3 separate regions of the Homo sapiens genome follow, and regions 2 and 3 are each linked to region 1. Evidence: fine-mapped expression QTL. A gene starts in region 1. Each other region holds a variant in brackets. All regions are shown on one strand. Distances are from middle to middle. Region 1 holds the start of SIRT5 (sirtuin 5). Region 2 has its middle 9.9 kb from the start of RANBP9. Region 3 holds the start of LOC124901523 (U7 small nuclear RNA).

The links. PIP is the estimated chance that this variant, and not a neighbour inherited with it, causes the effect.
Region 2: its variant is the best candidate, but not a certain one, in a credible set for the expression of SIRT5 in tibial nerve (GTEx, PIP 0.71).
Region 3: its variant is the best candidate, but not a certain one, in a credible set for the expression of SIRT5 in cerebellar hemisphere (GTEx, PIP 0.78).

The regions. Positions count from the first base shown.
Region 1 is chr6:13,573,123-13,575,886 of GRCh38, forward strand. SIRT5 (sirtuin 5) reads left to right here and starts at 1,479. Exons shown (of 10, transcript NM_012241.5): 1 at 1,479-1,622. LOC105374937 (a long non-coding RNA gene) reads right to left here and starts at 1,312. Exons shown (of 2, transcript XR_926497.4): 1 at 843-1,312; 2 at 1-99. RefSeq lists a silencer at 1,032-1,551 and enhancers at 1,244-1,830, 1,762-2,241, 1,831-2,416.
Region 2 is chr6:13,720,364-13,723,127 of GRCh38, forward strand. No RefSeq gene overlaps it. Among named protein-coding and RNA genes, the nearest start is that of RANBP9, 9.9 kb to the left of the region's middle. The variant G/A (reference allele first, on the strand shown) is at 1,082.
Region 3 is chr6:13,677,766-13,680,529 of GRCh38, forward strand. All of the region lies in intron 2 of RANBP9 (RAN binding protein 9), which reads right to left. It overlaps LOC124901523 (U7 small nuclear RNA), which reads left to right and starts at 2,315; the gene lies at 2,315-2,376. The variant G/A (reference allele first, on the strand shown) is at 1,389.

The sequences.
Region 1 (2,764 bases):
CCTAGTAGGCCTTATCTTTCTCTGGTACTTGGCAAAGGGCAGTGAGGATCCCGGGCCAACCGCAGTTGTTTTAAGCTGGGTTACCTATAGATAAAGAGACTAGGAAAAAAAATCAAACAAACAAAACGGTTTAAAAAACAATGAGCATTTTCAGCTGTCTACTGTTTAAGAAAATAATGAGCTCTCAGTTTTGCCCTCTGAGCGATTTCTCCAGGACTGCCCTGGTAACACTACTACTCAACAGTTTTGTGCTTTGCGCAGTTACTTGACCTCCCTGGGCCTCGGTTTCCCCACCCATAAAGTGGGGATAACAGTACCTATTTCATCAGGTGGTGGGGACGATTTAAAATGGTTAATAATGTGCAGTTCTTAAAAGTGTCTGGCTCAGAATAAGCACCATACACGTTAGGGGGAAAAACAGCAGCCGGATGTGAGGCCCTCCCCAATTTCGTTACTCCATAAACCTCTGAGTTGCTGGTAACACCTGCAGGAATGAGAAGGGCCTCAACATGGGCTGAATTTCCAGCCAAACTGTGGGAAGTGGCTGAGATTTTAGGTAGGCAAAAAATGTTAATGTAACATTTTTGGCCCCCAAGTTCTCAGACCACTTACTTCCCTTTCTAGTCCACTGACATGCCCGCAAGCAATTCCATTCTGCCAAGTGGTGCTGGTGGCAAGCCGGAATCCAAGAAAAGGAAAGACTCCGATTTTAAGGGAACGGGGACATGCGGAGCCACGTGAGTCACTGGGTCCCAGAGCCACGGAAGGCTCTCAGCTCAGCAGTCAGAGTGCACTCGTCATTGCGTTCGAGGTTAGGTGGCCTAGCCTGGGAACCAACTCACCGTCATTTGAAATCGTTTTAGGGAAAATGACCCTAACATTTAAAATCCTCTCTCCTGAAGTTGTGTGGTCCAGCCGTTTGCTGAAGGAGGAAGCAAAGCCGGTAGTAACTCACTACATATTTGGGCAGTGGAATGAACCCTGGAAGCTGACAAAGTCGAAGCAAGTCACTGCGCCGCCCCCCACCCCCACCCCCACCCCAAATAAAAACAGAGAGACAATCCTTCAATTATAAAGAAGACCACGGCGCCCGGGTCTCCGGCAGGGGCCGCTGCAGCCGAGCAGAACGCTGAGCCGCTCCGCCCCACGGCCTCCTCTCCAGCCGGCGCGCCCGCCTCCCGCAGGTGCGTCTCTGCCTGCGCCGGGCCGGGGTCTCCGCGGCCTCTCCCGCTCGGGCTCCGGCTTCGAGGTCCCGACCAAGCACTGCTCTCGCGGGACTGCGCGCACCGCCCAGGGCCTGCCGCGGGCTCGCGAGCGGAGGTGGCACCGGTCCGCGGTGCGCATGCGCGGCCCGGCCTCTGCCCTGCGGTCCCGGGCTGGTGACTGGCTAGCGGTTGGAGGAAGGGATGTGGGGGATGGTGGGTGGGTACAGAGAGCTGGGAGGGAGGCACCCCGGGGGGCGGGGCGTGGGAGACTGTATTCGGGGGCGCGAGCTGCCCCAGGTGAGCCGTGGCTCAGGTCCGGAGCGCGGTCGGGACACAGCGCCTCTAGGAGAAAGCCTGGAAGGCGCTCCGGGGGTACCCAGAGCTCTTAGCGGGCCGGCAGCATGTGCGGGGCCCAAGGTCTTCCGGGCTCTGCGTGGGGGTCGCTGCGGCTGGAGACCAGGGAGGGGGATGGAAACGGGGTTGGAAAGTAATCCCACCCGAGCAGGTGGGCATGGGAGGCCGCTGTGCTGGGGAGCCCCGCGAGGGCTCCGAACAGAGCCTCCCTTTTCAGAAAGGTCACCCTGGTCATTGCAGCTGCCAGGGTGACCGAGGAAGGTGGCCGGGGTGGAGGCAGTGGGCGTGGAGAGGGGTCGGATTCCGGACGTAGTTTGAAGGTGGAGCCGTCAGGTTCTGCTGAGCAGCTTGGCTATGGGGCGTGCGAGAAGGGAAGGCTCAGGGCCTAGTCCCTGGGCACGAGTAGTAGCCGGGAGGATGAAGTCCCAGTGCTTCGGGGGGAGGCGGCTTGAGGACGGCTCTGGAGCTCAGGCTTGCCCGCGTGGAGTGGAAGCTGCCTCTTGGACACAGGGCGGGGAGGCCGCATGCAGTCTGGCGCGCTGGGAGGATGGGAGATCCAGAGGGGCAGGGCTGGAGGGGTAGGAGGAAAACCTGAAGAGGGTGGCGCCCGGAAGCCCGGGAAAGTGATGAACTGGGTCAGAGGCCGGGTATCAACAAATAGGAGGGTGGAGACGACCTTGAGGAAAGCAGGTGATGGAACGGGAGGGAATGGGGCCCCCTAGTGGAGACACCTGGGAGTGATGTATTGCATTTATTTAGCTCTTAGGCGTTCAAAAATTATTTATTGGGAGCCTGTACAACTTTTTGCAGTTCATTGCATTATCCTTAGCATGTATTTTGTTTTATATAAATATATATTTATATAATTATTTTTATTGACAAATTTATATATTTATAGCGTACAGTGTAATGTTTTGATATATGTATACATTGTAGAAAGATTAAATCAAGCTAATTGACATATCCATCACCTCACCTACTTATTTTTTGTGGTGAAAATCTACTCTCCTGGAAATATACAATACATCATCAACTATGGTCACCATGCTGTGCAGTAGATCACTAAAACTTACTCCTCTTACCTAACTAAAACTTTGTATCCTTTGACCAACATCCCTCCCTTCCACATCAGCCCTCTGCCAGGCCCCTGGTAACCATCATTCTACTCTGCTTCTATGAGTTCAACTTTTTTAGACCCCAAGTAT
Region 2 (2,764 bases), 150 kb after region 1:
CCTGACCAACATGGTGAAACCCCGTCTCTACTAAAAATTAGCCGGGCGTGGTGGCATGCACCTGTAAACCCAGCTACTCAGGAGGCTGAAGCAGGAGAATTGCTTGAACCTCGGAGGCAGGGGTTGCAGTGAGCCGAGATTGTGCCACTGCATTCCAGCCTGGGCTACAGAGCAAAACTCTGTCTAAAAAAAAAAAAAGTAAAAATAGAGTAACTATAGGGAACAGATAGCAGGAATTCATTTCCTCCCTTGGTGCTACAGTGATCAAGTTCTTGATGGAATCATGGGATGGGAAGCCTACCCCAGAATGTCTCTGAACTCCAGGGAATGCCCCCTGCAGGTCTAGGAAGTGCCTATGGGTGCAGTGGCTGGAATATCATGCAGGCAGCCAAAGGCATAGTTTGGAGGGAAGAAACAGGAAGAAAGGAAGATGAAAGACAAAAATAGAAAGCATAGAAAAAATAAAAAAGAAGAAAATGATCATTCTTTAAGAAAATGATAAATAGCTCCCCAAGGTGCCAGATATCATTGAGGAGAATAACTCACCAACCCACTGTGGGTTAGGCTCCTAGTTCCCCAAGATGCAGGCTGCATTCCATTCATTATCTACTGAGTGCCTATTATGTGCCTATTGTGTGTACACAGCGCTAGGAAGCATAGGGGAAAACATTTTTAAGGGACACTAACATCTTTACCCTCAACTGGTTTATAGTTTTGTAGGAAATTGACTTACACAACCAGTTTTTCAAGGTAGAATATGAATAGTGTTCTAAGAGAGACAAAAAGTGCCATAGGTTTTTCTTCTTTTTTTGAGACAGAGTCTCACTCTTGTCGCCCAGGCTGGAGTGCAATGGCACAATCTCGGCTCACTACAACCTCCACCTCCTGGGTTCAAGCAATTCTCCTGCCTCAGCCTCCTGAGTAGCTGGGACTACAGGCGCCCACCACACACCTGTCCAATTTTTGTATTTTTAGTAGAGATGGGGTTTCAACATGTTGGCCAGGCTGGTCTATAATTCCTGACTTCAGGTGATCTGCCCGCCTTGCCCTCACAAAGTGCTGGCATGAGCCACCACACCTG[G/A]CCAGGTTTTTTTCTAATATCCTAGGAAAAGTAATTGTCCAGCCTATTGTAAGAATGTAACCCATTCTTACAAGTAAAATGAATTCTTCAATCTAAGTTTCTTTATATCTAGGCTACAGCATGGAGATAATTGATACAAATATTTTCTTATCATCATGGTCCTCAAAGAAAGTACCAGGCCTAATTTGCAATCTAAGTAAACATAAAAAGAAAGTTGTTTAGTAAAGCAATTTATTTCATAAGTCACTATTTCTTTCACCATAGCCATATACTATCTTATGCTTAGTAATGAATTTTTAAAAAACATTTTTATTTGTTTTCCTTAAGTGCCTTCAAAGATATGCTGGGAAAAATATGCTCAGCAATACGTGAGACTTCCCAAAACTGCAATATTTCAAAGATGTCAGAGCATCTGTATCTTAAAAAGCAGCATAGGCCGGGCGCAGTGGCTCACACCTGTAATCCCAGCTCTTTGGGAAGCCAAGGCAGGCGGATCACGAGGTCAGGAGTTCGAGACCAGCCTGGCCAACATGGTGAAACCTCATCTCTACTAAAAATACAAAAAATAGCTGAGTGTGGTGGTGGGCACCTGTAATCCCAGCTACTCGGGAGGCTGAGGCAGGAGAATCGTTTGAAACCTGGAGGCAGAGGTTTCAGTGAGCCGAGATCCCGCCATTGCACTCCAGCCTGGGTGACAGAGTGAGACTCCGTCTCAAAAAAATAAAAAAATAAAAAATAAAGGCAGCATAAATAATAAAATGGCTTCAAAATACTTTTTTTTAGTATTTTTCTGCTTCAGCTGCAATTAGTTTATTTTGCAAATATTTAACTTTGAAACAGGCATCAGTTATTTAAAGAGAGGTAGCATTGTCTGTGGAATTACCGGTCTGGCTCTTAATATCACCAACAGTCCCCCACATGTGCCTTATGCCATTGTCTATATGAAAACTTCTCATAGATAATAGATCTTTGACATTCTTAAGAGGCCCAGATCTTTCTGAATCCTTAAACTGTAAATCTCATGAAACAATATTATATCATCCCATAAAATTCAGTAAGTATAATTTGAATAGTCTACATGATTGAAGAACAACAAAGCCACACTGACATGTGGCTGTTGAGTGGTTGACTAGGCTACGTGTTTCCATGCAGTGCACTAACCTTAACACACATGGGATGCTATTAGCGCTTGGTAAAATTATGGCAAAACGGCCTTCTGCATTGCTTCTAAAGAGTCAAGACTGGCCAGGGTGCGGTGGCTCACACCTGTAATCCCAGCACTCAGGGAGGCCGAGGTGGGCAGATCACTTCAGGTCAGGAGTGTGTAACCAGCCTGGCCAACATGGTGAAAACCCATCTCTACTAAAAATACAAAAAATTAGCTGGGCGTGGTGCCGAGTGCCTGTAATCCCAGTTACTTCGTAGGCCAAGGCAGGAGAACTGCTTGAACCCGGGAAGCAGAGGTTGCAGTGAGCCCAGATCGCTCCACTGCACTCAACCCTGGGCGACAGAGTGAGACTCCGTCTCAAGAAAAAAAAGAAAGGAGTTAAGATTGTGGATGTTCAATGTGAGTCTAAATGTACAAGTTAGACTGTACAAGCTAAATGTACAAGCTCTGATCAGGTTCTTCAAATATATACACCCCTCCTTATCTTCCTGTGGTTGTGCACACCCACGTTTATA
Region 3 (2,764 bases), 100 kb after region 1:
TATATACCAACTGGTGATTCACATAGTAGTGTTATAAAATCAAACCAAAAACATTCCAGCAACAACTGCAGGCCAGGTGTGGTGGCTCAAGCCTATAATCCCAGCACTTTAGGAGGCTGAGGTGGGTGGATCACTTGAACCCAACAGTTTGAAACTGGTCTGGGCAACAAGGCAAAACCCCGTCTCTACATAAAATATAAAAAATTAGCCAGGCATAGTGGTATGTGCCTGCAGTGCCAGCTACTCAAGAAGCTGAGGTGGGAGGATCACTAAGTCCAGGAGTTCAAGGCTGCAGTGAACAGTGATCACGTCACTGTACTCCAGCCTGGGCAACAGAGTGAGATCTTATCTCAAAAAACAAACAAAAAACAATTACAGATGCTCCTGTGAAAATATTTCAATCAGGTTACATACTTGAGACGTATTTCAGTGTTTAGAAAAGGCAATCACTATCTAAAAGAAATGAGAACTTATAAAAAATAATAAAGAACCAAAAGGAAAGCAATTGTTGAGAAAGCTATGGTTCTCAAAGATTATTAACACAGAAATTATTTGACAAGGTAAACAGAACTTCAGCTGGCCACTGCATTTAAAACATGTTTCTTATTTACTATATTTTATTATGTTTTGGCTTTTTAAAAGCTTGCTGGCCAGGGCTAGTGCTTTCTTAGAGATAAGAGGGCTCACAGGAGCATGTCTTCCATATACAAACCAACCAATCCTGAGTCTACAGCCAAATCCACCTCCTTATCTAACGCTCACATACGAAGCCAGTATTTCCTGCCCTAAATCATTCCAGAGTCAGGTACCAGGCAATTAGAGACCACCTCTACAGCTCAAAGCCTGGAGGAATCATCCAAACTCTTCAATCCTCAACTGTTTACTCTGCCCTCCCTTGCCTTTCCCAGGAAATCCCAATACTCTGGCCTGGACTTTTCCGTGGCTCCTGTCTTCTGCTTCCTGACTAAAACCTGGTGCTTCCCCTGTGTAGCATGCAGTGACCCTCCCTGAGACCTGTGAGTATAATAAAATTCTTCCTTCTAAGCCTTATTCTCATATCCCCCTGCAGCTACCCAGACTTTACCACACCGTATCCAACACCTACATTCTTAGAATAGCCACTATTAATATACAAAATAAATTTAAGTATATGCATGCTCAAAATATTGCAAAGTGAAATATTAATCACCAGATGATTATCTGCACCAATGGAACTGAGGTAAGAAACTTAAAACTAAAGTAACAGAAAACAGAAATCCTTTTTTCAAACCTAGAACATTCTGCTGTGATTAAAAAAAAAATTTGTTCCAATTCTAATTCTATGCTGACAGTAAAGCAGCTACTTATCTCTCTCTACACTGCACCTTCTCTACCACATTCTTCCCAAA[G/A]CATAAAGAATCATGAAAAACAGAAATTCTTTCTTGCCTTCGGAAAGTTCACAATAATATACACCAAGCTGCATCTTTCTTCAGCTGCATCTTTCTCCCATTACCTCTCGAAGAGCTATAAAAATATAAATATACAATACCTAAAATTAAGGCCTGGCTATATTTACTAAGATGGCCTTCAAAGTACCTATTCATTTATCCTGCCTTTTAATAATTAAGACAATAAGGCTCTAAAAACAAGAAAAGCCTATTAGTTTGAGAGTTCCTCTGACGATTCTTTGTCGAATAATTCCATCTGTAGTTAACTACTACAACAACAACAAAACACAAAATAACTTGTTAAACTGTTAAATGTTAAGGAAAATAATCTATCATATGCATAAAACAACATATTCTACTTTTCACCCAACAGACACAAAATTGTTTATGTTTCCAATAAACTGACATTTTTGGTTAATAAAATTATTTATATTTTAATCCATATTTAAAATCTTGTTTTTCAACATATCCCTATAAGATTAATAAATAAAAAGTAGCAACTTTAAATCACACAAATAAGTTCAGAAGAAACTGATTTACATTTCAATTCTATAAACATTACAGGTTCTACTTGTACCAAATGAGATGTACCTATAAAACTATGGAGACTGAGATGCGTTTTACTGTTTTGTTTTTCAATAATATTTCTCTTCACAAGTGCTATAACTTAAAAATTACACTGGATGTTCAAGACTTGTTCACAGGAAGTCTCCAATTTTTAATATAAATCGGTCAAAAAATAGTGTTCTTATTTACTTAAGAATTACAAGGAAAAAAAGGAAAATTATTTCAGAAATAAAGACAAGCTAATTGGAACACAAAGTAAAAGACCCCACAAGAAAAGAGGAAAGAGAATGGAGGAAATTTTTAAAATAACGAAGTTAGTCAAGTGTTACAGATCCTTTAGAATTTCTCTGGCAGGTTTTCCAGTTTTTACCAAAAAACTCTTCAAAAAAACAAAATAATAGAAGAAGTTAGTCAAAGAAGACCCAACATACATTCATAATTAGAGTCCCTAAAAAACAAACCCATGTAATGGAACAGAACAAATACTGAAAACCATCATACGAAAAAACTTTTCTGAAATAAAACACTTGAACCTACTCTTAAGACCATACCAAGATCAACACCAAGACATAGTCAAGTAATGGTTCTTTAAAGAAAAAGAAAAATCTTTCAGGTAACAGGCAAATGACCAAATTTCTTGTAAGAAAAAAATGTCTGAAGACTTTGAAAATGTCCATGGAGCTCATAAAAAAACATGGCTGGGTACAGTGGTTCATGCGTGTAATCCCAGCACTTTGGGAAGCTGAGGTGGGAAGATCATCACTTGAGCC